2 separate regions of the Homo sapiens genome follow, and region 1 is linked to region 2. Evidence: fine-mapped expression QTL. A gene starts in region 2. The other region holds a variant in brackets. All regions are shown on one strand. Distances are between the middles of the regions.

What was found. PIP is the estimated chance that this variant, and not a neighbour inherited with it, causes the effect.
Region 1: its variant is fine-mapped to the expression of CITED4 in monocytes after R848 (Quach 2016, PIP 0.95). The same link has a PIP of 0.9 or more in monocytes after Pam3CSK4.

The regions. Positions count from the first base shown.
Region 1 is chr1:40,919,814-40,935,724 of GRCh38, forward strand. No RefSeq gene overlaps it. Among named protein-coding and RNA genes, the nearest start is that of CTPS1, 52 kb to the right of the region's middle. The variant A/G (reference allele first, on the strand shown) is at 8,147.
Region 2 is chr1:40,853,381-40,869,291 of GRCh38, forward strand. It overlaps CITED4 (Cbp/p300 interacting transactivator with Glu/Asp rich carboxy-terminal domain 4), which reads right to left and starts at 8,983. Exons shown (of 1, transcript NM_133467.3): 1 at 7,674-8,983. The coding sequence starts at 8,747. The coding sequence ends at 8,193. LOC124904157 (a long non-coding RNA gene) reads left to right here and starts at 9,004. Exons shown (of 3, transcript XR_007066025.1): 1 at 9,004-9,730; 2 at 10,788-11,015; 3 at 13,368-13,551. LOC105378676 (a long non-coding RNA gene) reads right to left here and starts at 4,114. Exons shown (of 3, transcript XR_947239.2): 1 at 3,682-4,114. RefSeq lists silencers at 8,770-8,849, 9,010-9,209, 14,997-15,291 and enhancers at 9,310-9,369, 11,793-12,342, 12,343-12,892.

The DNA of each region.
Region 1 (15,911 bases), 66 kb after region 2:
CCAGAGGAGGCCTCCACGTCCCACCCTTTTCCCTTCTCCTCTCTGCTGTTTCCCGAGCTTGGGCACCCTTGCCCATCACCCTGGTTACCCGGTCATTACTCATGGGAGGTCCAGTCCCAGATCTCTCAGTGCTAAAACCCACTTAAGGTCCTGCTCAAATGCCCACTGTTCCACGGAGCCCTGCTAGAATGGGAGCCTGCCAAGGTGAGGCTGTACACCTGTGTCCAACCCAGAAATAGGTCCAGAGGGCCATGTCCCAGTCTCAAGGAACAAATTAACCAATTTCTGTGAATGGCACTACCCCCTTCCCAGTCACCCAGGCCTGGATTCTGACCAACCCAATACTGGGTTGGTTATAAGCTCTGCTGGTTCTTATTGGAAGCCACCTAAACTCCTTAGCTTGGACTTCACAGCCCTCTGTTTGGTATCAACCTACCCAACCGCGTCTCATGTGACCCCTCCTTCTGCTGGACTCTCTACTGCTTATCCATCCACCTACTTTAACCCTGTTTATTGAGCCTATATTATGTGCCGCCATTGCTCTGGGAACTGAAGATGTTCCAGTGAATGAAGTGGAGCCCCCTCCCTCAAGGATCTCACAGTCTCTTTGGAGCAGACAGGCAATAAACATGTACACAAATGACAAATTGTATAGTACCAGAGTATGTTAAGTGCTCTGTACACAAGTCAAAAGAATAGGGCGTGATGAAGAGGATGTGTGTGGGAACCGCGAGGAGGCCATTGAGGTAGAGTGAGCACAGTGACCAGGCCACTGAGGTAGAGTGAGTGCGGTGACCAGAAGGGCTGGGAATAGAGGTCACAGAGGAAAGGCCATGGTGAAGAGTTTGAATTTTCTGAGAGACAGGCATGGTCCAACACTTTGGGAGGCTGAGGTGGGTGGATTGCTTGAGCCCAGGAGTTTGAGGCCAGCCTGGGCAACATGGTGAAACCTGGTCTCTACAGTTTTGTGCGTGTATATGTATACACACACACACACACACATATATACACACATATATACACACATGTATATACATAATGTGTATTTATATGTATAAATTAGCCAGGCGTGGTGGCGCATGCTTGTAGTCCCACCTATTTGGGAAGCTGAGGTGAGAGAATCCCTTGAGCTTGGGAGGTTGAGGCTGCAGTGAGCCAAGATTGTGCCACTGCACTCCAGCCTGGGTGACAGAATGAGACTCTTTCTAAAAAAAAAAAAAAAAAAAAAAACCTTCCATGGGGTGTGACGGAAAGCGACTGTCCTGTCTGTGTGCCATGCCCATTCCTCCCACTGGACCTCTTGTCTGAATGGCCTCCCCAAGCTTCTCCAGCATCCTTGTTATACTTAGATTTCAGGACCCAAGGCCAGTCATGCTATCATTCTGGAGCCTTCTTTGTTTACTCCAGACCACATTCATCTCTTCTTCCAAATTCCTAAGATGGTACCTTGGGTCTTGGGGCTTGGCTAGACTTCAAATTCAAATTCTCAAACATGTACTCTGCCCCCATGTCATGCCTATCACTGTGCTGGTGCAACACGTAGGTAACTCATCCAAGCCTCGCCACCTTCCCATGAGGTTCAAATTATGCCCAGTTTTTACAGATGGGTAAACTGAGGCTTGGAGCAGTTAAGCAACTTATCTGTGGGCTCACATATAAGGAGTGGTGGAGGAAGGATTTGAATGCAGCATCTGATCCCCCAAGTCCAGCTTCGTTCTCACTAGCCCTCAGCCACTTCTGCCTTTACATAATTTGATCATGGTCTTCAGGGGTCCCCAGACCTGCCCCTAATCTCCTTCCGCATCTTCACTTCTGCACGACCCACAGCACCCAGGGATCACCGGAGTAGGCACCCTGCACTTCTCTATGCCCCCTGCCAGTGGGATGTGACACTTGCAGAGTGAATAAGCACCCCTAGGGTGACAGCCAAGGCTGCCCACACCTCTCTCCTCTCCTGCAGTGGGTTCCTACAGGGAGCCAGCAGCCATCCAGTGGAACAAGGGGCCAACACTTCAGAAGAAACTGCCATATGCTGGAGTTGTGTTATTGTCAATATGACTCTTTCTTCCAGGCCTGTGCATGATGGCATGGGAATAGTCATAACAACCTTTACTACAGCAACTCTTCATTGGCACTAGCCCATCTTAAGCTTCTCCTTTTTGGGTTAAATTCAGGATGTCAATAATAATAACAACAATAGTTTTTTTGTTGTTGTTGTTTGTTTGTTTGTTTTGAGACAGAACTCACTCTGTCACCCAGGCTGGATTGCTGTGAAGTGATCTCTGCTCACTGCAGCCTCAATCTCCCAGGCTCAAGTGATCCTCCCAACTTAGCCTCCCGAGTAGCTGGCACTACAGGTGTGCACCACCACACCCAGCTAATTTTTGTATTTTTTGCTGAGATGGGGTTTCGCCATGTTGCCCAGGCTGATCTCAAACTCCTGGGCTCAAACCCTCTGCCTGCTTGGGCCTCCCAGAGTGCTGGGATTACTTGCATGTACCGCTGTGCCTGGACAACAATAGCTATTTTATCAAAAATATGCAAAATGAAAGGAAGCTGCTGGGCACTTTATGTACCCTATCTTATTTAATCCTTATAGAAACCCTAGGATGCAGGTATGATTATTATGCCCATTTTACAGATATAGAAACTGAGTCTCAGGCAGGCAAAGCAACTTGCCTGAGGCCACAGAGCTGATAAATGCTGAAACTCAAATCCCAGCTCCACCCTGAGGCTGGTGGACCTCCAAGTCCTTGATCTCAACCTCTGCACCCAGTTCTACAACCAGATAGGTGTTCAGGAGGTCCAACACAGGCAGTGGATAGGTGAGGAAGGCTTAGTGACTGGGGCTCCTCAGAGAGGTGCATAAAACCAGGGAAACTCAAAGCACTGCAGGGACACTGGTCTGAGTTTCAGGAACCTGGGTCCAGATCCTGGCTTTGCCTCCTCCCAGCCGTGTGTCCTTGCTCATGTTGCCTACCCTCTCTGCACCTTTATTTCCTCAGCTGTGAAATGGGTTGATAATAGATTCGCCCTCCAAGCCTGGTGTAAGAAGGAAGTATGATAATGTCTGTGAACATGCTTTGAGGCCCTGAAGCACCACGCTTAGTGCATTATCATCCATTCCCTGGACTTCTAGAATGAGTGAACCGTGGGAGAATCAGGAACAGCATCGGGGGAAGGAGGAGAGGAAAGTGTCGGATCAGGCTTTTCTGGGTAGACAGAGGTAGGTAAATGTCTTGCTCAGCCAACCTCACATGACAAGAGGAACCTGCTAACTAGGTCACCTTGCAGGAGGAAAGAGCTATTCCGGGATCCGCCTGCAGTTGCAGAGCTGGAGCTGGGGAGCTGAGCTGGCTATTTCAGGGGCGGCACAGAAAGCCCGTCCGACCGCTCTCCCTTGGATCTCGGCCCTGCCTTGGGCCTAGGGCCTTGGGCCTTGAGAGGCAGGGAGATTCTAGTGGACGCTGTGCTGGCACTCTCTGCATGGCTGCCCTCAGGCAGGGGGAACCATCAGGCCATCTGGAACCATCACAACACGATCTTCCCCATCCCCTGGGAACCACCATCCCAGGCAGCTGTGGGTGAGGGTGGCAAGATGCTAGACTTGCATTTCTCAGCCTGACTGGGAGTCTCAGCTCCTGAATGCAATGACCCTGCAACGCTGGGCAGTTTGCTCCAGCATTCTGGGCCTGGGTTTCCTCACTTGTAACATGGGGGTAATGGTGCTTATGTTCCAGGACTGTCTGAGGATTAAATGAGATAATGATATAAAGCACCAAGCACAGGGTCTGGCCCAGAGGAAGCACTTGATAAATGGGGATTGTTCCTAACTGAGCTTCTGTGGCATTCTATGCTGCAATAGTGATGGCGGGGAGGGGACACCTGAAAGAAGGCTGCACCTTGTGGGATGGGAATGGGGGCGGAAGGAGAGATTATGCTGGAGAAATTGAGCGTTTGAGACTGCTTAAAGAGAAGAATCCTTTTGGGAGGAGCCTGGGACTGTGAGGTCAGTGTGACCCAGGTGAGAATTGCTCAGCTCCCTGCAGGTTGGGCAGGTATGTCTTTACCTTCTGAGCTTCAGGTGCCTTGTCTGCAAAATGAGGCTGAAAATACTTAGCTCCTATAATCTGGCAAGAAATAAGTGAATTAACATAAAGCCTTTATTTAGCATAGTGCTTGGCACCTAGTAGGTGTTCAAGAAATGCCAGCTATTATTGTGTTATCTCATTTAGTCCTCATAGCTACCCTATAAAGAAAGTATTACTATCTTCATTTTATAGATGAGGAAATGGAGGCACAGAGAGGTTAAGTAATTTATGCAGGGTCTCATAGTGAAGAAGCTGTTTTACTAAGATTTGAATTTAGTCTGACCTTGGAATTCGCACTTTTAACTACCACTTCCCATGCTTGTGTGTGTGTGTGTGAGAGAGAGAGAGAGAGAGAAAGTATGTATAGCTATATGCGGATATGTGAAACAAAAAGATGAAAAGTGCCTAGCATGATATGGTTACATAGTCAGTGATCAGTAACCAGCAGCTGTTGTTACTGTAATTGTTATTCCCGTCATGACCATTGTTCACAATTTAATTGGCAATTATGAAACAGGAGTGGCCGGTGAAGGTAGAAAGAGTTCTAAAATATTAGAAAAGGCAACAATCCCATTCTCAAAGGACTTGTCAAAAGGAAAAGGCAAAAGAATAGTCATAAAGTCATAAGTAACTTTCTTGTAGCATTCTCTATAATTAGGAAAAATGGGGAAAATGTATATACCGAAGAATAACGGGGTGGTTACGTAAATTATGGTTGATCAGTGGCTCACACCTGTAATCCCAGCACTTTGGGAGGCTGAGGCGGGCGGATCACATGAGGTCAGGAGTTCAAGACCAGCTTGGCCAACATGGCGAAACCCCATCTCTACTAAAAATGCAAAACTTAGCCGGGTGTGGTGGTGCATGCCTGTAATCCCAGCTACTCAGGAGGCTGAGGCAGGAGAATCGCTTGAACCCAGGAGGTGGAGGTTGCAGTGAACTGAGGTCGCGCCACTGCATTCCAGCCTAGGCAATAGAGTGAGACTCCATCTCAAAAAAAAAAAAAAAGAAAGAAAAGAAAATGACACATTCATTTAGAATGATGATACAAGGACTTGACATGGAAAATGTTTATTACGTAATTACTATTACTGGGGAAATGCTGGATATAAAATTCTATTTCTGCTCTAATTATACCTCTGTTAAAATATCGACTGTATGTAGAGAGGAGCTAGAAAGAATATGCAGTGTCAATGTGATAAATGCTGGCATTGAGTATTTCTCTCTTTGTCATTGATTTAATAACTCAACCATCATTTATTAAGCACGTACTAAGGTCGGTCAGCATGTTAGGCATGGCTATTAGTATGGATTATATTAGGCTGCAGGAAGACTTAACGAGAAAAGAGGTTTTAGTGCCTCTCAGAACATTCAGCGGGGAAGCAGTTCAAAGCCGATGTGGCAGCTTCAGGGTGTCAGGGACCATGGCTCGCTCTCTGGGGGGGCTCTGGCATTTCTAGGGAGTTACCTTTTTCCACATGGTCCTATGGGGTACACCACCATGTCTATGTTCCAGCCAGCAGGGTAAGGAGGAGAAGCGGAGGGCATGCTTCTTCCAGGAAAGGTCTCACTGAAGTTGCTCACACCACCTCCCTCCTTATGCATTGGCCAGAACCTTGTTGCTTGGACACCCCTAGCTGCAAGCTAGACTAAGACACGTCAGGACTTTGGGAGGCCATTAGCCTTGCTAAAAACAGGTCCCAATTACTGCAGAAGAAGGGAGAACAGCAACAGGGGCACCCCTGCAGCATAACAGATTAAGTAAGTCAAAGCCACAATCCTGGAAGAACCCAGTGCCCAGTGAAAGTGACATACACTGTCAAGAAATTGGCTGGGTGCAGTGGCTCATACCTGTAATCTCAGAGCTTTGGGAAGTTGAGGCAGGAGGATCACTTGAGCCCAGGAGTTCAAGCCTGGGCAACAGGAAAAAAAATTTTTTTAATTAGCTGGGGATGGTGGTGTGTGCTGTAATCCCAGCTACTCCAGAGGCTAAGGGACGAGAATGGCCTGAGCTGGGGAGATAGAGGGTGAAGTGAGCTATGATTGCACCACTGCATTCCAGCTGGGGCAAATAATTATAAGACAATCTGTGAAGTGCTGTGATTGAGCTATAGGGTTACCAGGGACAGAATGACCAACACTGGCTGGGGGGCCATGAACAGCTTCATCTCCCATGAAGATTTTGCCTGGAACGATCCCATCCCACTCCGTTTGTACCATGTGGTTCTGTGCTCCCACCAAGACTTAACTGATCTCAGCAGTGGGTGAGGGGCACTCCTGACCAAGCTGGAATCATCCAAGGCCTGCTGGGAGTTTGAATGGAGTGGAGCGAAGCAGCATCTGGGGTCATGGTAGACTTGTCCCCTGAAGGCAGCAGGCTTCTACTGCAGTGATCCCTGGAGACATGCTAGACCTGTTCTTCAGACGATCCTTGATTCAACTCCTCTTCCTTCAGTCTGTGTGGTGCCTCCATAGCTCCCAAGATATCCATCCCACCACTCCCTCCCAGGTTTGTTTGTTTGTTTGTTTGTTTTTGCCTTAAGGTAGTTACTTGAGACCAAAATAAGCTGAACTAACTCAGAGGTCAGGGTAAGTTAACAAGCAGTTTCACTGAGATTCAATTCTAAGTGGATATCCCCCCCCCGGGTGCAATGTGCAATAAGAAGCCATGAGGTTTTAAGGAGGGCAGAGGGGAAGGTTTTCCAGGCAGGGAATCAGCAGCGTATATATCTGGAAGCCTTTTATTTCTGTCAGTGGTTTATTGATTATGCAATAAAAGGACCGCTGGGAAGAGAAAACTCATAACAAAGGCCCTAGTGGGCCCTGAAGCCACCAGCCCACGACTATCTCTGGGTGAAGAGCTGGAGTTTCGTCCTCCGAGACAGCTGTGGTTTCTGCTTTGCTCTGTGATCCTAGGCCCTCCAGGAGATCTCTCTGGAACTGATTCTTCAATTTCTAAGAGAACAACAAGAGTATTTAAGGGGATTAAAAACCACAGCAATATCTATGAACACTTTAAAACCCCACTCTGTGCAGGCCTGGTTTAACCCTGGCGATGTAATCATCAATCATTCCTATCCTTGACCTTCCCCTGCACTCACTCAATGAGCAGCTCCCAAAAGTTGGGTCTCCACTGTGCACCTGGGGTCCACACACTTCTCCCCACCAGCTTGGCCCACCACTTCATCGAGCCTCTGGATGACTGCTTCGTCTCCTAACTGGTCTTCCTTTTGTTATTTTTGTCCCCTTCCAATCTGTTCCTACGATACAGCCAATTTGATCTTTTAAAAAATCAGATCAAGCTGGGTGCGGTGGCTCACTCCCAAAGTGCTCCCAGCACTTTGGGAGATGGAGGCAGGGTTGTTTGAGCCCAGGAGTTCAAGACTGGCCTAGGTAACTTAGGGAGACCCCATCTCTACAAAATATTTAAAAATTAGCCAGGCATGGTGGCATGTGCCTGTAGTCCCAGCTACTCAGAAGGCTGAGGTGGGAGGACTGCTTGAGGCCGGGTGGTTGAGGCTTCAGTGAGCCATGATTGCATCACTGCACTCCAGCCTGGGCAATAGAGTAAGATGCTGTCTCAAAAAAAAAAAAAAAAAAAATCAGATTAAGTGGAGGAAGCCAGTCTGAAAAGGCTACATACTGTGTTATTCCAAATCTATGATATTTCGGAAAAGGCAAAAACTATGGAGACAGTATAACAATCAGTGGTTGTGGCCAGGTGCGGTGGCTCATACCTGTAATCCTAGCACTTTTGGAGGCTGAGGCAGGCAGATCACCTGAGGTCAGGAGTTCGAGACCAGCCTGGCCAACATAGTGAAACCTCATCTCTACCAAAAATACAAAAATTAGCCAAGCATGGTGGCACGTGTCTGTAATCCTAGCTACTTGAGAGGCTGAGGCACGACAATCGCTTGGACCCGGGAAGCAGAGGTTGCAGTGAGCTGAGATCGCACCACTGCACTTCAGCCTGGGCCACAGAGGAAGACTCAACTCAAAAAAAAAAAAAAAAAAAAAAAAAGTAGTTGCCAAGGCCTTGGGAGGAGGGAGGAATC[A/G]GTGGAAAACAGGGGGTTTTTAGGACAGTGTGACTAATCTGTATGCTACTATAATAGTAGACACAGGTCATACATTATTCAAAACTCATGTTCAATACAGAGCAAATTCTAATGTAAACTGTGGACTTTAGTTAATAATAATGTATTGGGTCATCAACTGTAACAAATGTACCCCTCTAATGGAGGATGCTAATACTAAGGGAAATTGTGATATGTGTGCATGTATGCACAGTAGAGGGTGAGAGGGAACTCTGGACTTTCCGCTCAATTTTTCTATAAACCTGAAACTACTCTAAAAATAAAGTCTATTAATTTTTTAAAAATCAGATTATGTCATTTTCCTGTTTAAAACCTTCCAACGGCTTCCTATTGCACTTTGAACAACATAATAAAACTCCTTCCTCTGGCTCATGAAGTCCCCATGATGTGGCCCCTGCCTTGCTGTCTCCCTTCCCCAACTAACACTCCACAATGGGCTTCTTTCTGTTTCTCAAATATGCCCAGTTTTTTCTCACCCCAGGGTCTTTGCACTTGCTGTTCCCTCTATCTCGATGCTCTTCCCTCTGATTTTCAGATGGCTGGTTCCCTGTTATCACTGAGGTCCTAGCTAAACATCCCTTCCTTGGAGGGGCCATCCTGACCACCCAATAAGAGCAGCCACCCAGTCACTCAATGCCATGCAACCCTGGATTCTACTGGAAGTAGTTGCCATGGGAACAGGGGTCTTTTCTACCTTCTTCCTTGCTGTATCCCCAGCTCCTAGAACAGAGTCTGACCTGCAAAGGTCCTCCAGAGATACTGGTTGAGTGAATGTGAGTGAATGAATGAAAGAATCTTCTGAAACTCATTCAGGGCCAGGCCTATGCTGGATCCCAGATAAGGCATGGTTTGTGACCTCTGGGATCTCACAATTTAATACACAGAAGTTTACATTGGACCTCCCGAACAAAGTAGCAGAGTGGTTAAGAGCACAGGCCATGGAGCCAGACTTTGTGGGTTCAAATCCTGGCTCTGGTTGGGCTCAGTGGCTCACGGCTATAATCCCAGCTCTTTGGGAGGCTGAGTTGGGAGGATTGCTTGAGCCTAGGAGTTTGAGACCAGCCTGGGCAACATAGTGAGACCCCCATCTCTACAAAAAATTAAAAAATTAGCCAGACATGGTGGCATGCGCCTGTGGTCCCAGCTACTCAGGAGGCTGAAATGGGAGGATCACTTGAGCCCAGGAAGTCGAGGCTGCAGTGAGCCAAGATGGCACCACTGCACTCCAGCCTGGGTGACAGAGCAAGACCCTGTCTCAAAACAACAACAACAACAAAAGACAACTAGCTCTGGTCTGTAACAGCTGTGTGTGTAAAACACCCAGGAAAGTTTCTAGAGCATATTACATGATCAAGAAATGTGAGTCATCATTGATGTCATGCAGGCCATATAAAGATACATGAGGCTGCACAACTCCAACACCAGAGTTCAGGGAATTTGGGAAATCCCTTTATTTATTCATTTGTTTCTGGATCACTCATTGCAAGCCTTTGGAAATGAGCATGAGAAGGGGCAGGTTATTTTAGGGAAAATTAAATTTTTTAAATGGAGAAACTAATATTGACTGTACTAAGAGGCTTGATATTCAAGATGTCATTTTATCCTCCCAACAAATATTTGGGGTAAATACTGTAGGGCTATTTCACAGATGAGAAAACTGAGACTTAGGGAGGTGAGATGATTTGCCCCATGTGACCCAGCTAGGAGGTAGCAGAACCAAGAATGACCCCAGGGCACAGTGAGGTCATAACATGCCCCCTTCTCTCTCACCATCCCTGCTCCAGCAGGCATGGGCTCCAGTCCCGAGCCCGGGCTTACATGGGTGGCAGTGACACTGGGTGGTCAGGAGCTGGGATGTTAGTGTAGACGGACCTGATTTCAAGTCTTACCCAGGGCAAGACTTTGGGCAAGGTTCCATACTGGAAAACTGGGTAGCTGGGCACAATGGCTCATACCTGTAATTCCAGCTACTTGGGAGGCTGGAGAGCAGGATGGCTTGAGGCCAGGAGTTTGAGACGCGCCTGGACAAGATAGCGAGGCCCCTCGTCTCTAAAATAAACAAACATATCAGAAAAATGGGGTTCATAACAATATCTGCTTCATAAGATGGACCTCTGTGAGCACAGCTCTCAGGACAGCACTTGGCAAAGGGTGGGGAGTTGGTAAATACTCATTGAACAGAGGCACCATGGAGTTGTTGTGAGAGGTGAGATGAGATGAGGCTGATCTGTCAGATACATGACAACCAGTTCCCAAAATTTCTGAAAGAAGGACCAGAGCCAGGATTCCACAACATGGCACCTGTGTGAACAGGAGTTCTGAAGAGGGCATTCAGAGCCGGGAGGAACAAAAGGGATCATGTTGTTGACACATGAGGTAATCACCTGGCAGGTTGGTGGCAGAGCTGGCTGGAACCATGGCCATCCGTCAGTTCTCAGGCAGTGCATTGCAGGGGAGAGAACCAAAGAAAGTGTTCTTCAAGGCCAAGGTCCCTTCTGCCAGCCCATGGGGCCTCCGATTCTGTTCTCATGGGGAGTTGGGGTGAGGATGCCTGTGTCATCCATGGGTGAATTCTCCAGCCTCTCTGGGGAGCTCTACATGCCCGGCTCCCTCAGGCCCCAGCTAGTTCCAGGGTTTAGGTCCTGGAGAGGGCCACAGTGCTCAGGGTCTCAGAAGCCAGCTCTTCTTCCCACACCCAGAGCTCCTTCCCCAGCCGGGCCCACACTTTTGCTCCCTGGCTGACCTAGATTCAGGAGCTGGCTCATTTCCACAAGTAGACAGATGCTGAGGCACAGTGAATTAACACACATATTTCAATAAGTGGTGGGCAGGTGGCCCCACAGCCTCTCAGAGCCTCAGTTTTCTCAAATTTTTTTTTGTTTTTTTTGAGACGGAGTCTCGGTCTGTTGCTGAGGCTGGAGTGTAGTGACGCAATCTCAGCTCACTGCAGCTTCCACCTCCCAGGTTCACTTCTCCGGCCTCAGCCTCCTGAGTAGCTGGGATTACAGGTCCCCACCACCACACCCGGCTAATTTTTGTAATTTTAGTAGAGGTGGGGTTTCACCATGTTGGCCAGGCTGGTCTCGAACTCCTGAGCTCCTGTGATCTGCCCACCTCGGCCTCCCAAAGTGTTGGGATTACAGGCATGAGCCATCACACCTGGCCAGTTTTCTCAACTTTTAAAGTAGGGACAATAGCATTTACCCTTGCAGAGTTGTGAAGATTAAATGCACTTATATACTTGAAGTGCTAGCACAGTGGCTGAACAGAGTAAGTCAACAATACACATGTATTATGCATTCTTGCATTGCTATAAAGAAGTACCCGAGACCGGGTAATTTACAAAGAAAAGAGGTTTAATTGGCTCACAGTTCTGTAAGTTGTACAGTAAGCATGATGCTGGCATTTGCTCGGCTTCTGGGGAGGCCTCAGGAAACTTACAATTATGGCGGAAGGCAAAGGGGGAGCAGGCATGTCACATGACCGAAGCAGGAGGAAGAGGTCAGGGGGAGATGCCACACACTTTAAAATGACCAGACCTCGGGAGAATTCACTCACTATTGAGAGGACAGCACCAAGGGAATGGTGCTAAACCATTCATGAGAAACCTACCCCCATGATCTAATCACCTCCCACCAGGCTCCACTTCCAAAACTGGGGATTACATTGAATGTGAGATTTGGGTGGGGACACAGATCCAAACTATATCAACACGTTAATCTCTTTCCTTCCTCACATCTATCCCCACACTGACTTTGGAGGCAGCTTGCTAGCTCTCAGCCGGGCTTACGTCACCACCCTGCTTAAAAAATCTTTTATTCTTCCAGTGCTCTCTAAGCTAATGTGAATATTCCCTGGCTTGGCATCCCAGACCCTCCTCACCCGCCCCAAGCTGTTTGACCCGCCAGCTTTTTTGCCACCCTTTTCTAACTAATGTGCTGTCAAGTTAATAAGCCTTTCTTGGAAATGTCACTCATATACCCCTGCCTTGTAGACCCAATGCACATTAACATATTAAGGGTTCTGAGGAACATTGCAGGAAAGACATTTGTTTAACCTTGTTCAGTGCAGAATTTCCCAAGTGAGTTTGACTGTAGAATCCCATTAATATCCCACAGGACATGCGTTTGTTTCCTGAACACCCTTTGCAATTTCCTGCCTGCATGCTCTGCACAGGTGGGTCTTTCTTTCCACAAAGCCCTTCCTCCCCAACGCCTGTTTACTCATCACAGGAGGCCCAGACTGGCCGACCCCTCCTCCAGTTGGTAGAGCTGACTCCCTCCCCTGGGCTCCCTCAGTCTGTGTCCTCTGCCCCACCCTTGCTCTTCCAGTCCTCCCAGTGAGCATTCCTGCAGGGCTGCCAGCCCTCACTCTCGCCTCCCCAGCATCTGGCCTCCCTTGCTCCCCTGCCCCCACCCGAGATCCATTTGAGTCCTATCTATCTGTTCCCAGGGGACCACCAAAAAACATTTCCTCTAAGAACCTTTTCTGTATTCCTTAGTCAGGTAAAAAATAAACAATAAATAAAAATCTGTTTTCCTCGTGATTTTAGTTAAAGGTCGCTAAGGGTAAGGTCCATATTTTTGGTTTCTCCACAGTGCTTTGCACTTAGTAAGTTCTCAGTAAATGCATGCTTAGACATACATTCCACCATATTTATTGAACACCTATCATGTGTCCTGTGCTGGATGTTGGGGGCATAATGGGAAACACAACAAACCTGGAAGGCAATAAGGGAAGTAGGAAAAGCTAGGATTCTGGGAGACACGGCTTGCTTCTGAATCCTGGTTCCACTACTTACCAGCTATGCATCCCTGAACAAGTTACTTGACCTCTTTGTGCTTCAGTCTCCTCACTCATGAAACAGGGAAAGAAAAAGTATTTGTCTTGAAGGGTTACTGTGAGGATTCAGTAAGATGATACATAAAAAGTGCTTAGAACAGACCCAAACACATAGGAAGAGCTATAGATGTGTTCAGCGATTGTTATTGTAATAGACAGCTTTGCCTCACAGAGTTTAGTTTAATAGGAAAGACAGACGTTGAATGACCAATTATACTAGTAACTATTTATTTATTTATTTATTTATTCGAGACAAGGTCTGGCTTTGTAGCCCAGGCTGGAGTGCAATGGTGCAATCATAGCTCGCTGCAGCTTCAATCTCCTGGGCTCAAGCCATTCTCCTGCCTCAGCCTCCCAAGTATCTGTGACTACAGGTTTGAGCCATCATGCCTGGCTAAGTTTTTCAAAATTTGGGTAGTGACTGAGTCTTACTGTGTTGCTCAGGCTGGTCTCGAACTCCTGGCTTCAAGTAATCCTCCTGCCAAGGCCTCCCCAAGTGCTAGGATTGCAGGCATCAGTCACTGTGCCTGGCCCTATTTATGCTTTCCTATTTATGTTTTTGATAAATGTTGAGAAGGAAAAGTACAGTGCACAATGGGAGAATAAAACAGATGGCCCAGGCTTGTCCCACGGTTCAAGGAAAGCTTCTTGGAGGATATGCCATTTAAACTAAGACTGAGGATAAGCATCAGTTGCCAGGCCAAGAGGGGATGGAAGGGCATTCCATGCAGAGGGAACAGAGTGTGCAAAGATACTGAGCCAGGAAATAATTTGGCATTTTGGAAGAACTCAGAGAAGGCCAGAGTGGCAAAAGGGCAGGGAATGAGAAGGCAGAGGTAGAAGATGAATTTGCAGAGGGGGGCAGACCATGCATGCCCTGGCAGGGCATGTAAGGATTGAGGGCTTTATCCCAGGAGCATTGGGAAGCCTTTGAAGGTTTCAATCAGAGCAGTGACCAGATCATATCTGCGTCTTAACAAACCATTTCAGAGACTGGTAGAGGATACCAGTAGGAGATTGATCCAGGTGAGAGAAGACAGGGGTTTGGACTGGGGTGCTGGCTGTGGGGAAGGAGAGAAATGCAAGCATGAAAGAAATGGTGAGGAGATCAAAGAAATGACAGAAATAAGTGACTGATGGAGAATGGGCAGCAATTGGAAGAGAGAACTGCTGAGAATGCGTCTGGACTCATGGCCTGAGTGGCTGAACAACTGAAGATGAACCCGCTCACGTGCAGGGAGACGTGATGCATTCAGTTTAGGATATGCTGAGTTGGAGGCTGCAAATGGGGTTACTCGTTTAAGGGGGGGTAAGAATAATACAGAAAGTTAAATCATGCTATATTAAGAATATAAAAGTAGGCAAAGTAACTATAGGTTGAACAGAGACTTTGGGTTGAGAGAGAAATAACTTGTATAATCTATCAAAAAAGTCTGAGTCTGTCCCTTTTTAATTTATATTTATTTATTTATTTATTTATTTATTTATTTATTTAGAGACAAGGTCTCGCTATGTTGCCCAATCTGTTCTCAAACTCCTGGGCTCAAATGATCCTCCCACCTTCACGTCCCAAAGTGCTGGGATCACCACTCCAGGACACATTTTTTTTTTTTAATGGAAAAGATGTCACAAATGGAGACCCAGTTTAGTACAAAGGAGATGGGGGTGGGGCGTTTTGGTAGGGTTCAGGGCACTGTGGATTCTCAGCAGTCACTGACTCTTACCAGTCCTGGAAGTGCGTCAAGCAGCTGGACAGAAATCACAGTGTGGACACTGGTTGGCACTTAGGGAACTCATTCATTCGTTGACTTTACAAATATCTATTTATCTGTCAATGTTCTAGGGCTCAAGGAGCTAATTCCTTAGCTTCTAACTGGAGGAGACAGACAACAAACACGTGAGTGCGTAATTTAACATCAGATCAACTGCTGTAAAGGAAAAGAAAGTCAAATCAAGGGTTAAAAAGTGCTGGGAAGAGCTCCATGATTTGAGTGGTCAAGGCCTCTCTGAAGGACAGACATCTGATTTCCAATAAAACAATTAAGAAATTACATATTTCCTTTTGTTACCTTTAAATTTATATATTAAATAGCTGACAAAAAATATTTAAAGCTTAATAGAGCATAAAATAAAGGCCATAAAAATGAACAATGAAACCAGTAGAAATCAACAGAAAATCGATGGAAGAAAATGGTAACAAAAGAATTTCAGATCATTCCAAAAGCAGTAACTCAGTAAGAGGAAAAGATAAATTTGCAAAGCAGGTATAAATAGCCTTCTGGAGTCTTTGGTAATCCAATTACTAAAAAGGAATAGGTGGGTACAGTTGTTCATGCCTGTAAGCTTAGCACTTTGGGAGGCCAAGGTGAGAGGATTGCTTGAGCCCAAGGGTTCGAGACCAGCCTGTGCAACATAGCAAGGACCCCCAAATCTATTTTATTTTATTTTTAAATAAAATTTTTTTCTAGCCCATAAGATATGGCAGAAAGACCCCATAGCAAAAAAAAAAAAAAAAAAAAAAAAAAATTAGCCAGGCATGGTGGCATGCAGTGCAGTCCCAGTTAGCTACTCTGGGGGCTGAGGCAGAAGGATCACTTGAGCCCAGGAGTTAGAGGTTACAGTGAGCTATGATGGTACCACTGCACTCCAGCCTGGGTGGCAAAGTGAGACCCTGTCTAAAAATAATAACAATAGGCTGGGCACGGTGGCTCACACCTGTAATCCCAGCACTTTGGGAGGCCGAGGCTGGCAGATCACCTGAGATCGGGAGTTGGAGACCAGCCTGACCAACATGGAGAAACCCCATCTCTACTAAAAATACAAAATTAGCTGAGCGTGGCGGCTCATGCCTGTAATCCCAGCTACTCAGGAGGCTGAGGCAGGA
Region 2 (15,911 bases):
AATTTGAAAGACTTTGATGCGAAGAAGAAAAAGGGGAGGACGAGGAGGAGAAGAAGATAAAGTATTGCTATTGCAAAATAGCCATGGAAAGATTTGGGGCTTCCTTACACTGATTTTACAGCTAAGCAGTATTTTATTTTGAATCACATACAGGGGAACAAGAAAACTTACCCAAGCTACGTGGGCTATAAACGAGGGAGAGGTGGTTTCCCAAAGGAATTTTTGGGAAACCTTTTATCAGGAGAAGGGTGACTAAATCCTGGAAGGCATAAATAGCAGACGCCTACTTCTGCCCTTGGGTCTTTCTCCGCTGGCTGAAGAGCCCCGTCCTTCAGCCATTTGCGTGGGACATGGTTTGAAGTCCTCCCTGCCCACCCTGGACCCCTTCTCTGGACATACTCACAGCTATTGCTGACTCAGCACTGCTGTGCCAAGTTGGAAATAGCTATTGCTATTGGGAACTTACTGCATGCCAGGCACCGTGCTAAGTACATCAGCCAATAGCTCGTTTAATCCCATCTGTTGAGTGTGTAAGTATTGGAACATATTTTAGTTTAGAAACAAAAACAGAGGCTAACAGTGGTAAAGTGGCTTTGCCAAATGTCATGTATGTAGTTTGGAGCCAGATTCAAACCCAGAAGGGCCTGAAAGACTCAAGCTAGCAGCAGGGCCTGAGAGACAAGCCCAGGTCTGACGCCAAGTCTCTCAGGCCCTGCTGCTCGTCTGTCTGTGTTGCTGTCTCATTAGGGGCAGAAGCACCACTCCACAGACGTCTCTGAGGAGAGCCGGACCACCCCTGTCCTTCGTTTAAATCCAGAAGCTTGGCTGGGCGCAGTGGCTCCTGCCTGTAATCCTAGCACTTTGGGAGGCTGAGGCGAGCAGATCACTTGAGCCCAGGAGTTCGAAACCAGTCTGGGCAACATGGCACCCCGCCCCCCCGCCCCCGCCCCCCACTAAAATAGGGAGCTGAGCGCAGGACCCATTGAAGTCTGTGTGACACTCAAGATTCTAAGGCGTTGTTTTTTTTTTTTTTTTTGATACAGAGTTTCGCTCTTGTTGCCCAGTCTGGAGTGCAATGGCGCAATCGCGGCTCACTGCAACCTCTGCCTTCTGGGTTCAAGCGATTCTACTGCCTCAGCCTCCCGAGTAGCTGGGATTACAGGCGCCCGCCACCATGCCTGGCTAATTTTTATATTTTTAGTAGAGACGGGGTTTCACCACGCTGGCCAGGCTGGTCACGAACTCCTAACCTCAAGTAATCCATCCACCTCAGCCTCCCAAAGTTCTGGGATTACAGGTGTGAGCCACCGCACCTGTCTGGGGATTGTTCTCATTTGTAGAGTCACGGAGGGTAGATATCCACGAACATCAAGTCCAGGTATCTCCGTGAAGCAGAAGTGTGGCCAGGGATGGAGCAGGGAGTCCTCCACAGCCCATTAGAGGGTGGTCTCCAGCGGGGCTCATTTGTATGCCTCTTCCCACAGAGGAGCTCAGGCTTAGGGCTTTGCCATAAAACGGGCACATCAGACAGCAGACTGCCCTAGCCCAAGAAAGGGTGTGAGCCAATCGTTTTGTTTCAAACAAACACATGTTTTTGGTCAAAATAAATATACGCTTAAGACAAAATAATTTTCAAACAATGTAGAAAGCACAGAGTAAAAAGTCAGACCACCCCCACACAAGACTTTTCAAACACACACGATTCCATTATACTACACATACGTTACATACATATACATAATACACATCTCTTTTTTATATAAATAGGATTATAATATTTTATTTTATTTTATTATTTATTTATTTTTATTATTTTAAGACAGAGTTTCGCTCTTGTTGCCCAGGCTTGAGTGCAATGGTGCAATCTCAGCTCACTGCAACCTTTGCCTCCTGGGTTCAAGTGATTCTCCTGCCTCAGCCTCCCAAGTAGCTGGGATTACCGGCACCCACCACCACACCCAGTTAATTTTGTATTTTTAGTAAAGATGGGGTTTCACCACGTTGGCCAGGCTGGTCTCGAACTCCTGACCTCAAATGGTCCACCTGCCTCGACCTCCCAAAGTGCTGGGATTATAGGCATGAGCCACCACGCCCAGACTATTTTTATTTTTAAAAAATTATTTTGAAAATTTGTTTTGCCAACCTTAGAGTTAACTACACCTCATAAATAAAAAATGAAATTTTAAGTTTAAAATGTATTAAAATTTTCCTGGACTCAAGTGATCCTCCTGCCTCGGCCTCCCAAAGTGCTGGTATTCTAGGTGTGAGCCACCATGCCTGGCCCAGCACTTCCTAATGCCCTCTGAGCCACACAGGGGGCGATGGTGAGCCTTACAGTCTGGTGGAGAAAGACCCCTCAGCGACTCTGACACACAAGGTAATAGGCCTTTGGATGTGGAAAAGGCCCTATGGAGGGCATTTCAGGCTGAGGAAATGGCACAGGCAAAGGAACAGAGGCTTGGCGGCACGAGGAACATCGTGCATGAGGAGCCTGGGGTGGCTGGAGTTGAGGGTGGGAAGGCACTTGGAGGCTGGGTGGGGCAGGGCTCTGTCCTTCTCGTCCCTGTGGTCATATTTCCCAGCCACAGCTCCACCTGAGCAGCTCACGGGTCAGGCACTTAACATCACCTTGGTTCATTCTCACAAGAAGCTTATCGTGTCTCTATTTGACAGACGAGGGGACTGCACTCAGAGTAGCTTCCTTTATTTCTTCTATCCATCAGGGCACACTTTGGGCCCTGGGCCTTTACTCATGCCCAGTCCCCCAACCTGTGTGTCCTCCCCAAGCTGACCCACATCCCACTCTTTTATCAGCACCAGCCCTCAGGGCCGTCCAGACGCTGAGCTGCTCAGCAGTGCCTCCTTAGAGCCCTCAACATGAGACTCTACGTTGCATGCTCCAGGCTGGCCAGATCTCAAGCCCCAAAGTATATGCAGGTGTCCTCTTCCCAGACCAGCTACAGGATAAGGGCCATGGTTGTTCAGCCACAAACCCACTTTGGCCAGGCAGCACTGCACTGCTTGCAGTGTGCTCTCAGAAACCCAGCCTCATGTGAATCTTTGCACACACATTCTTCAGATGTTGGAATTATTCTCTCCATTGGATGGAAGAAGGAATCAAAGCCTAAGGAGGCCCAGTAACTTCCTCTGCAATTCACAGCCTCAGAGTGGCAGATCAGCTCTGGGACTCTGCTCTTATCCCACCCAGGCTCAGGTCCTTGGCCAGATCCAGCCTGGGAAGGGGACAGGCCCTGGATATGGTGGGGTGGACATGCTCACCTCACCTCTTACTGAGGTGTGACTTGGAGTAATTCTCTGAGTGCCCCAGTTTTCTGACCTCTGGAATGGGGATAAACTACCTAGCAGTGCTATTTACAGGGTTGGGCGGTGATTAAAGAGAGACTGGAAAAGAAAGAGTGCCACTGGGCACTCCCCGTCAGTTCCCACCATGCCTGCACGCAGCAGCCACTCAGTAAGCACTTATTTGGTCTTATAGTTGGCACTAATCTTGTCCCAGCACTTCTAACAACAGGGTGGCATGAAGAGTTAGGCCACGATGGATTAAGGAATTCAAGAGGATTACTTAGTAATCAGCTAAACCACTTAAGCTGCCTGGGAAAAGGCTAGGATCAGACTGATCATTAATTTATTCGATAAATGACTGTTGAACACTTATCTGACCTGGAGTGATGACGATGATGATGACAATGACGATGATGATAATGATGATGACAATGACGATGATGATGACAATGACAATTATGATAGTGATGGCAGCGCTCAGTTATTGAGAATCTACCATGTGTGGGGTATTTTGTATAGAGTCTCATCACATCAAACCTGTAAGGTTGATACATTTACATTTTGTTGTTTTTGTTCTGTAATGGGGAAGGTGCTGGTCAGGTCTGAGACTAAGGTGAGGCAAAAGAGATACCCAGGGCATAAATTTAAAGAGTCCCTTGCTGTTGGGAACCAGAGTCCCCACCCCAGTGCTTGTGGTGAACACTGTGATGTGCCGCCCAGAGCCCCCTTCTATGAAATCATTGCCCTAGTCTGGGCACGGTGGTGCATCCTGTAATCCCAGCACGTTGGGAGGCCAAGGCAGGCAGATCACTTGAGGCCAGAAGTTGGAGACCAGACTGGACAACATGGTGAAACCCCATCTCTACTAAAAATACAAAAGTTAGCTGGGTCCGGTGGCACATACCTGTAACCCCAGCTATGCAGGAGGCTGAGGCAAGAGAATCACTTGAACCCGGAAGGCAGAGGTTGCAGTAAGCAGAGATCGCGCCACTGCACTCCAGCCTGGGCGACAGAGTGAGACTCTGTCTCAAAAAAAAAAAAAAAAAAAAGAACAAAAGAAAAGAGAAGAAAAGGAATCATTGCTCTAGCCCCCAGGAGTGCTGCTGTTGGTAGACAGCCGTACCCTGGCAGCTCCTCCAGGGATGAGCTTAGCTGGGGACAGCTGCCTTGCCCACAGTCACACCACTTCTCTGGGTGGCTCACATCCAGTGACTGATGGAGGCAGGAGTATAAAGGATTAAAATGGTCCAACTCAGGCCAACTCTGAAGGGCCCTTCTAGCTCCAGAGCTCCCAGCGGGGCTGGCTGAGGCTCCTGCTGGGCCTGCTTTGTAGCTTCTTAGCTCCTTCTGTCCCCTCCCTTCTGCAGCTGCTGATCCTGAAGGCACTCCCTAATACACCTCTTGCTAGCTGAATGTCATCTCAGAGTCTGCTTCCCAGGGAACCCCACCTGTAACAGTGTTGCTTGTTGGAGTAACCCCTTTCTAGCTGGTTAAAACACAGCCTTTCTAATATTCTAATACAAAGGCATCTCCAAAAAGTGCTGTTATCAGGGATAACAGCACTTACTACAAACCACACTGCTCTCAATACTTTACCTGCACTAACTTGTTTAATCTCCACAGCAGTTCTGCAGGGTGGTACTATTAGCATTCCCATTGTAGAGATGAGTTCAAGGGAAATTATACTTTTCTTGAAGGAAAAAAAACCACACACACAAATGACAGCTTGTTGATAAAATCCAGTCAACCAAAAGATAATTCAAAATAAAGAACATCAGCCTGGAAACTTTCATATGAATAGGAAAACAAAACAAAACAACAACAACAAAAGGATGGGAAAATGACTTGTGTCATGACTCAGTTCTCAACCCTGAGGAAGCCTGATTTCTGACCCCCAAGATCCAGCCTAGGTATAAGAGAGAAATCCACAGCACCCTTTGGCAACAGGTTGCTTTAGGAGGCAGCCCTGGGGGAGACATGAGCGACACCCTGTTGGCACCACGGAAGCTCGTGTGATTATCTTAGGAGAGCCAAGATGCGGGAGGTGTGGTGGCTTCCTTGAGGTCAGGCAGCTAGTAAGAGTTGCTTCTGAACTGGACCCTGAGGCTGTCAGACGACAAGCCCATTGCTCTCCTCACTGTCTCTACACGTACTCTCTCTTCCCCTGGTAGGGGATGGTAGGGTCAGAAGCCTCCAAACAGTATCAGGGATTTGGGGATCCAGGCTGTGGGATGCCCCAGCCTCATCTTCTCCCCTGTCCATCTGTCTGCTGTCCAACTTGTCAGCAGTCCCTTTTGGAGGGATGCAGGAGGGAAGAGCTCAGCAGCTGGACTCTCTCCTCCGCTTCCCCCTTAACTCTGGAAAGAGGCAGGTGTTGGGGTTTTCGTTGTAATCCCTTCCATATGGAGAGCACTTCAGAGTTTGCCAACTGCTTATCAACCCATCTCTGAATTTGTTCCTTACTAATTGTGAGGGTTATTGCTTTGTAATGTAGCAGGGCAGGGATATTAGCCCCATTTTACTGGTGTGGAAACTGAGGGGAGAGAGAAGAGAATCAGGGAAGTGTTCAGCTCAGGGTCAAACCCTCCTGTACTAATTCAGCCCTGTGGTTTCTGTCTCTGGCCTGGGGTTCTGGGCAAAGCAGCGGGGCGGTGGGGTGGGCAAATGCCAGCCCCTCTGAGCCCAGAGCTCAGGCCAGTCCCTTCCCAGAAGGCTCTCTTCCTTTCTCTCTTCATCCTGTCCCAGAAATCCCATGATCTTAGGGAGACCTTTATTCATTTGCCAAACACCTCCTGTCACCAGCCACATTCCATCCTGGTAGCTTCAGAGCACAGTAGGTCCTGGGAGAACTCACAGGTTGGTGGAGGGTCACATCCACAAAAAAGCCTGGCTTGAGAGTCAAGCCCAGCTGCTGGGGACAGAAGGTCTCAGCCTGGTGTTCCCCTCCAGTGTCCCTGGAATCCATGCTCTCCTAGAGAATGCCCCACCACCGCAGCGTCTCTGACCCGGCCTCCTCCCTGACTTCAATCTCTTTCCCAGCTTTTCTCCCACATCTCAGAAGCACCTAGGGATTTTTCCAGAGTGAACTGCAGAGGGTGGCCAGGAACTCACGCTGGTGCTCAGGACTCTGAGGCCAAATCCTGCCAGGCCTGGGCACACTCCACAACCCTCATGTGTAGAATGAGGACTGTGCTTGCCTCACGAAGTTGTCGTAAAGCCATTCGACCTTTCTTGTACCTTCTAGACACCCCACACCTTCCCCAAACATTCATCGTACTTGTGTGCCTTCCTGCCTTGAAACAGGCTCCTCTCCTAAAAACATATTCATCACTCAAGGCTCTGTTCATCACGTCAAATGTCACCGCTTCCCTGAAGCCTGAACTGACCCCAACCTCAACTATTAATAGCTGAAACTGCTCCCTTCTCTGGGTGTGCCCGCTTGGCCGGTCTATTGTCCTGGCTGTACAATCCCCCCCAGAACTATTTTCTTTTTTCTTGAGGAGTCTCGCTCTGTTGCCAGGCTGGAGTGCAGTGGCATGATCTCGGCTCACTGCAACTTCTGCCTCCTGGGTTCAAGCGATTCTCCTGCCTCAGCCTCCCGAGTAGCTGGGACTATAGGCGCGCACCACCATGCCCAGCTAATTTTTATATTTTTAGTAGAGACGGGGTTTCACCATATTAGCCAGGATGGTCTCGATCTGTTGACCTCGTGATCTGCCCGTCTCGGCCTCCCAAAGTGCTGCTTAGCACTGTTTTCTAGAACTCATCACAGTCTTCCTTGCAGCAAGATTAGTTTGTTTTCAGGCCTATCACCCACCTCCTCCCACCTGGGCTGTGATTCCATGAGAACATGCACCAGGTTGACACAGGGCCTGGAATAAAATCAGCACCAATTTGTAGAATAATAATTGCCGTCACTTACTGAGAACTGCCCAGGTATTTGGCACTGTGCTAAAGGCAGCGTAACTACCTGAGGAGACGGGGACCATCTCCCTCTGGGAAACCGCCTCAAAAATCAGAACGGATGGTGTCTTGGGCAAAGGAGAGAGTCAGGGTCCAAAGCTAGGCTGTCTGAACTCGGTGCCACCCAGCTCCTCTCTGGCAGAGCACCAAGCTCCCCCCACCCTACCCTAGGAGCTGGGAAGCCCAGTGGGTTACCCCACCACCCAGTGGCAGCCTCTGCCCTCCAGGTTGTGACATAACAATTGCACAACCCACGAGATATTTTTGAAAGAAACTGTCGGTTTCCTCTCCTGGGCACTGCTGGGGACTGTGGCCCCCATGCCATCCAGTGTCTTCAGCAACCTTGGGACTTTGGAAGCTAAATATAGTCAGGGCTCGGGGTGATAAGGAAATGAAAACGGCAAGACTGTAAAGTGACCCAGTTTTATTTTGGTTTTGGAGGCCAGACAGGGCATTGCTCCACGGGTTCGGGCTGTACAACCTTCCCCTCCTTGAGGTGGGAGGCCCAGCAACCACAGGGCCCAGGCAGCGGGGTGGGAGGCTCAGGAGATGGTGGCTCTGGGGACCCGATCCCGAGGAGAGAGGGGGCAGCAGGCAGAGGCCTGCAATGGCTCAGATTGGGGGAAGAGGGCGGCGAGGGGGAGAGGACACGATCCAAGAACCAGAGTCCGAAAGCTGAAGCTGGTCCGGTCTCTTTCACTTTACGGCCGAGGCTGGGGTCAGAGAAGTGAAGCCAAACTGTCCTCCCGCAGGAGGCAAGGCCTGGAGGGACGCCAGGGTCCCAGTCCGGTGCCGGGCCCTGCGCACACAGCCGCCGCCTCCACCCTCGCGGAGGGCGCGCGCGGGGCCCAGTCGCTGGGTGCAGGGTCCGGCGGGCAGTCGGGCCCTTTCTCCTCTCCGGCACGCCGGGCGGGCGCCGGCCGCCCTCAGCAGCTCACGGAGCCGGCGGGCGGCGCGGACCCCAAGTCCGAGAAGCAGTCGAACTCGCTCTGGCCCAGGAAGAGCTCGGGCAGCTCGCGCACGCGGTGCAGCCCGAGCTCCAGCTCCAGCGACGTCAGCGCCTCCTCGTCGATGAGTTCGGCGTCCATGCCGCCCAGGGCGTGCGCGGGCGGCGGCGGGGCTGCGGCGCTTGGCGCCGGCTGCGGGCCCGGGGGGCCTCCCGGAGCGTTGGGGGGCGCGGCCGCGCGGCCGGGGTACGGCGTCGCCACAGGCTGCAGGTGCGCGATGCCCGCGGCCGGCGGAGGCACGGCCGGAAAGGGCTGGAAGGAGGACGGCGGCCCGAAGGCCCCGTACGCCAGGGCCCCGGGTTGGCGGGGCGGCGGCGGCCCCAGCGGAGCCCCCCGCGGCCTCAGCCCACTGTCCAGGCCCGGGCCCGCGTACGGCGGCAGAGTCCGGAGCGCATGAGGGCCATGGGCGGCCGCGGCGGACGGCGGCCTCTGCACCAGGCGGTAGCCCTCGGCGAGCATCAGGTGGTCGGCCATGGCGGCAGGCCGGCTGCCTGCGGGGACAGCGCGCGGTGGTCAGCGCCGGCTCCCCCGGCCCGGGCCAGCGGCTGCTCTGCGGCGGGAGACCCGGGCACCGTGCGGTCCCTGCAGCTCGGCCGGGCGGAGCAAAACCAAACCCGACTGGTGCCCCGGCCCAGCCCACTACTGCGCACCTTGCGGCCGCAGCCTGGGGTCACAAAGGCCCGCAACCTGTAGTGCTCCGAAACCTCCGCGTCGCGTAGCTGGGCTCGGCGTATTCTTATACCCAGAGGCGGGGCTTCCCCGCCCTCGGACGCTCATTGGCTGGGCGAGACGCTTCTGGGCGGGCCGCGCACGCCTGCATCTAGGTCTTGGCCCCGCCCCTCCCACTGGAACCCCGCCCCTTGGGACTCCGGCCACGCCCCAGGCTCTGAGCACCGCCCTGGGGCGGGGTATTTGGCACTTTCGGAGGGATTCGGTCTGGCCCTCAGGGCTTCGGAATCGGACTTGGCTGGGGTAGAGCTTGAACTGACCAGAAGGTGGGGTGGGAGGGCCAGAGTTTTAGGCCCCCCAAGAGCTGCAGGATGTCAGGCCTACGCAACCTTTTAACTTTCCAGGTAGAGACCGAGGCTCAGTGGCGGAAGAGGCTTCCTGGAAATACACAGCAAAGCCTTGATCAAAGTGAGACTGCACAGCTACACAGGGCGCATGCACCTTAGCGGTGCAGGGTCCCCGCAGGAGGTCAGCTGTCCATTCCCATAACCCCCAGGAGAGCCTGTTGCTCCCCCTCTAGTTCCCACTGCACCTTGTCTGTTGAAGCATGTACTTAGTTGTTATTAATTTATGGGCACGTCTCCTGAAGGACTTGTTCATCTTCTTCTTCTCAGCACTTGGCCCAGAGCCTGGCCCAGAGCAGGCTTTTAGTAAAAGCTGAGTGAATGAACTAATGATGGAATGAATTGCAACTCTCAGCTGAGCCTCAGTTTCTTCATCTGTAAAAGGTAAAGAACAGCAGCACTGACCCTTTGTGAGGGGTAAGTGAGGGCATGTGTGCACAGTGCCTAGCACAGTGCCTGGTATGTGGTAGATGCTCAAAAGTGTCCCTTAGATGAAAGAAAGGCTATTTAAGTTCTTTTTTTTTTTTTTTTTGAGACGGAGTCTCGCTCTTTCGCCCAGGCTGGACTGCAGTGGCGCTGTCTTGGCTCACTGCAAGCTCCGCCTCCCGGGTTCACGCCATTCTCCTGCCTCAGTCTCCCGAGTAGCTGGGACTACAGGCGCCCGCTACCACGCCCGGCTAATTTTTTTTGTATTTTTAGTAGAGACGGGGTTTCACCGTGTTAGCCAGGATGGTCTCGATCTGCTGACCTCGTGATCCGCCCGCCTCGGCCTCCCAAAGTGCTGGAATTACAGGCGTGAGCCACCGCGCCCGGCCAAGGCTATTTAAGTTCTGTCCCAAAGGGCCTTCTCTTGATAACAGCAATAATAACTTGGACTTTTAAAGTGCTTTACATTCTACAAGTATTTTGTTGGGGGCAGGGCATGGATTATCAGCCCCATTTCAGTGATAAGGAGAAGCACACAAAGAGAAAGTGGCTGTCCTGAGGTCACAGGCAGCCAGAGTTAGCGTGTGAATGCCATGTGTTTTCCAAGTCCTTAGGGCAACTGGAGTCTTTCCTGTGGCCAGGAGACAGCCTCCCAGAACCTTACCCTCCACGCATTTGACACTCTCTCTCCCTTCTCTGACCTTCCCCCGACCTGTGGCATCCTTGGGACTTCCTGGAACTTGGGTTTATCCAGTTGATGTAGAGGGGAGAGCCCTAGAGTGAGAATTCAGGGGCCCAAGGTCTTTTCTTCCCTCTTTCTTCTTATTTTTTTAAATAGAGAAGGGAGCGGGGGGGAGGGGCGGCGTGGGGGAGTGAGGAGGGCCTCAGGCTTATCTCGAATCCCTGGCCTCAAGTGACCCTCTCACCTCAGGCTTCCAAAGTGCTAGGATTACAGGCATGAGCCACTGCGCCCAGCCAGAGGCCCAAGTTCTAATCATATCTCTGCCACCCACAGGTGTGTGACCTCCACCACCAACCAGCTGTGACTGTTGAGTGTTGAGCGGGGAGTATTACTTGATTCCCCAGGGCCTCAGCTTTCTGCTCTGTGAAAGGGAGACGGTGATCTTGCCTGGTCAGCCTGAGAGCTTGTGGGTAGTGATAAATGACCATGGGTGTGGTCACATTTTTGCAAAGTGTAAAAAGCTACACCCTGGAATTTATTCTCCTGAATCTTTCTCTACAGGTAAGGCTTCTCACAGAAATTCTTAAACCTGGCCATGCCTCACACTTATCTGGAGATGTGGGGGGTAAGGGGTGGGTGAGTGGGGGCTTTGATAAAGACGGAAAATCTGCCCAATTTGGGAGATGAAAGTGAGAGGATTGCTTGAGCCCAGGAGCTCAAGACCAGCCTGGGAAACATAGTGAGACCGTGTCTCTACAAAAAGTTAAATAATTAGTTGGGCATAGTGGCATGTATCTGTAGTCTGAGCTACCCAGGAGGCTCAGGTGGGAGGATTAGCTGAGCCCTGGAGGTGGAGGCTGCAGTGAGCCATGATGGCACCACTGCACTCCAGCCTGGGCGACAGAGATCTTGTCTCAAAAAAATCAACAAGCAGGCCAGGTGAGTGGCTCACGCTTGTAATCCCAGCACTTTGGGAGGCCGAGGTAAGTAGATCCCTTGAGCTCAGGAGTTTGAGACCCCTGTTTCTGAAAAAATAAAAAATTAACTTGGCATGGTGGTGTGCACTTGTAGTCCTTGCTACTTGGGAGGTTGAGGTGGGAGGATCACTTGAACCTGGGAAGTTGAGGCTACAGTGAGCTATGATCACACCACTGCACTCCAGCCCGGGTGATGTAGGGAGACCCTCTCTCAAAAAACAAAAAAAAACAAACAAAACAAACAAAAAATTATTCTGCCATCATTGGTCTTAGGTCACCAGCATTTGGGAGCCATTGCACCACCAGATGATTTTCCATTTAAAAAAAAATGTGTGTGTAACTAATGTTTAAGAAGTTCTTTAGGCCGGGCATGGTGGCTCACACCTGTAATCCCAGCACTTTGGGAGGCCAAGGTAGGCAGATCACCTGATATAGGAGTTTGAGACCAGCCTGGCCAACATGGTGAAACCCTGTCTCGACTAAAAATACAAAAATTAGCTGGGTGTGGTAGCACACGCCTGTAATCTCAGCTACTCAAGAGGCTGAGGCAGGAGAATTGCTTGAACCCAGGAGGCGGAGGTTGCAGTGAGCCTAGATAGCGCCACTGCACTCCAGCCCCAGCGACAGAGTGAGACTCCATCTCAAAAAAAAAAAAAAAAAAAGAGAAAAGACAAAAAAAAAAAAGGAAAAATAGAGTAGGAAGGAGGTTGGGGTGCAGGGGAGGAGGGGAGCAAGTTGTAGTATTAAGTGGGGTATCTGGGGCAAAAGCGGGCTGGGCGTGGTGGCTTACGCCTGTAATCCCAGCACTTTGGGAGGCTGAGGTGGGTAGGTCACTTGAGGTCAGGAATTTGATATCAGCCTGGCCAACATGGTGAAACCCCGTCTCTACAAAAAGTACAAAAATTAGCTGGGTGTGGTGGCACGCACCTGTAGTCCCAGCTACTCAGGAGGCTGAGGCAGGAGAATCGCCAGAACCCAGGAGGCAGAGGTTGCAGTGAGCCGAGATGGTGCCACTGCACTCCAGCCTGGGCAACAAAGCAAGACTCTATCTTTAAAAGAAGAAAAAAAAAAAAAGCCGTATCAGCAGAGAGAACGCTGGAGCAGCACTTCTAAAACTGTAGCAACAAGTCCTGAAGTGTCAGCCTTACCAGGGACCCCATTAGAAATGCACATTCTAGGACCGTACACCAGACTCAAATCAGTTTCTGAATCAGAAACTGGGCTGGAATTCAGCATCTGTGTTTTAATAAGCCCTGCGGGTGATTCTGATTAAGGACCTCTGAGTTAGGGGGAAGCCTTAGGCAAGGGTGAGCCGCAGCCCTAAGGGAGTGTGGACAGAGTGCAGTGGGGCTAGGAGGGTAGCAGGGAGGCCAACTGCATTGAGGCCTTGCAAGGACTTTGGCAGAGGAGTGACATGATCTGGCCTTTGTTCTGAAAGTGTTGCTATGGTCAGACCTCATTTGTTTCTAGAGTTTCCATAAACTGCTTCCTCCAGGCTCCTTGGATGCCCCAAGCACATTTGCTTCTCAGGACTCTTGCTGTGCCCTCTGCCTGGAATGCCCTTCCTTCAGACAGCCACAAGACCTTCCCTGACCACCCTCTATCCATTCTGTCCCCTTACTCTGTTTTGCTTCTGTCCTTAGCACCCACCACCATACAGTCATGCCCTGCATTACATTTGGGTCAAGACAATGGTCCTATAAGATTACAATGGAGCTGACAAATTCCTATCACCTAGTGACCTTGTAGCCACTGTAACGTCATAGCGCAACACATTCCTCACGTGTTTGTGGTGATGCTGGTGTAAACAAACCTACTGCGCCCCCAGTCATATAAAAGTATAGCACATACAGTTATGTACAGTACACTTGATAATGATGATAAACAACTATGTTACTGGTTTACGTACTTATGATATGTTTTATTGTTATTTTAGAGTGGACTCCTTCTACTTAAAAAAAAAAGTTAACTGTAAAGCAGCCTCAGGCAGGTCCTTCAGGAGGTATTGCAGAAGGCGGTTATCACGTGAGATGACAGCTGCATGTTACTGCCTCTGAAACCTTCCAGTGCGCCAAGGTGTGGAGGTGGAAGACAGTGATATTGATGATCCTGACCCCAGGCTAATGTGTGTGTTTGTGTCTTAGTTTTTAACAAAAACAGTAAAAAAAAAAATATTGAAAATAGAGAAAAGCTTATAGGATAAGGATATAAAGAACAAAAACGGGCTGTGTGTGGCGGCTCACGCCTGTAATCCCAACACTTTGAGACGCTGAGGCAGGAGGATCACTTGAGCCCAGGTGTTTGAAACTAGCCTGGGCAACATAGCAAGATCCTTGTATCTACCAATAATAAAAAAAATTAGTCAGGCATGATGGCATGCACCTGTAGTCCCAGCTACTTGGGAGGCTGAGGTGGGAGGATCACCTGAGCCTAGGAGGTTGAAGCTGCAGTGAGCCAGGATTGTGCCATGGCACTCCAGCCTAGGTGGCAGAGTGAGACCCTGTCATAAAAAAAAAAAAAAGAGGGCCAGTCACGGTGGCTCATGCCTGTAGTGCCAGCACTTTGGGAGGCCCAGGAGGGCGGATCACCTGAGGTGAGGAGTTCGAGACCAGCCCGGCGAACATGGCGAAACCCCGTCTCTACTAAAAATACAAAAATTAGCCAGGCATGTTGGTGCGTGTCTATAATCCCAGCTACTTGGGAGGCTGAGACAGGAGAATCACTTGAACCCAGGAGGCAGAGGTTGCAGTGAGCCAAGATCGCACCACTGCACTGTAGCCTGGGCAACAGAGCAAGACTCTGTCCCAAACAAATAAATAAAGTGAAAGAAGGAAAGGCTGTACAATGTGTTTGTGTTTTAAGCTAAGTGCTATTACAAAAGAGTTTAAAAGTTTTAAAAAGTACATAACGTTACAGTAAGCTAAGGTTAATTTATTATTAAAGAAATAAATCTTTGTTATAAATTTAGTGTAGCTTATAAAGTCTACAGTAGTGTGCAATAATGTCCTAGGCCTTCACATTCACTCACCACTCACTCACTTACCCAGAGCAACCTCCAGTCCTGCAAGCTCCACTTGTGGTAAGTGCCCTATATAGGTGTACCAGTTTTTTAAAATCTTTTATACTGTTTCTTTTTTTTTCTTTTTTCTTTTTTTTTTTTTTTTTTGAGTCACAGTCTCTCTCTGTTGCCCAGGCTGGAGTGTAGTGGCACAATCTTGGCTCACTGCAACCTCCGCCTCCTGGGTCCAAGCAATTCTCCTGCCTCAGCCTATGGAGTAGCTGGGGTTATAGGTGTGCATCACCATGCCTGGCTAATTTTTTAATTTTTAGTAGAGATGGGGTTTCACCACGTTGGCCAGGCTGGTCTCAAACTCCTGACCTCAAGTGATCCACCCGCCTTGGCCTCCCAATGTCTTAGGATTACAGGCGTGAGCCACTGTGCCTGTCCTATACTGTATTTTTATACCATATTTTTACTATACCTTTTCTGTGTTTAGGTACATGAATACTTACCATTGTGTTAGGGTTGCCTACAATGTTCAGCCCAGTAGCATGCAGTACAGGTTTGTAGCCTAGGAGCAATAGGTTATACCACATAGCCTAGGTGCATAGTAGACTGTGCCGTCTGGGTTTGTGTAAGTACACTCCATGATGTTTGCACAATGATAAGATCACCTGACAACATGTTTCTCAGAACATATCCACATTGTTAAGTGACTCATGACTGTATTTCAGAGAATGATTCCCCACCACTAGGTCAGCTCCCAGAGAGCACAGGCATTGAATATCTTGCTCTACACAGTCTTTCCAAGGCATCAGAACAGTGCTTGACACATAGTAGGGACTTAATAAGCATTGACTGTATGAATAAATTAGGCACAGAAAAACTTACTATCCTTGTGGCTTATGCCTGTAATCCCAAGACTTATAGTAAGTATCCTTATCCTTACTGTCCTTATATTTGAGCAAAGACTTTTTGACAGAGAAGGAAACTGAGGCCCAGAAAATGGTTGGAATTGCTGAGGTATGTATGTGGAGTGTATATCTGCGGTGTGTGTGTGGTGGAATCAGGAGTGGAGGCAACATTTGTAGCCCTTGGAGCAGAGCCTTTCACACTGACCTAAGCTGCTTTTACCCTAAGCCACACCTTTACAAGCACGAGTAGACAGGACCATAGTAGACTTTGGCCCAGGTGGGCATTGACCAAGGAAAGGCACTGGGCCCTGAGCTCCATCTTGTGCTGCGGGGCAAGGGTGCAGTCCCTTCCTCTCCCTCCCTGTGTCCAGTCCCCCTTCTGAGGACACACCGGAGGACCCATCCTAGGTGGCTTCTACCTCCCTCAAAGACCTCAGGTCCTGACTGGCGTGGACACTTGATTTGCTACCTCTTGGGTTTTGCTCTTGTCCACTGCCGCATTTCCAGCACTCAGCAAGGGACTGTCTAGAGGTTGACTGAGACTGGAGGTCTCATGAGAGGGTGT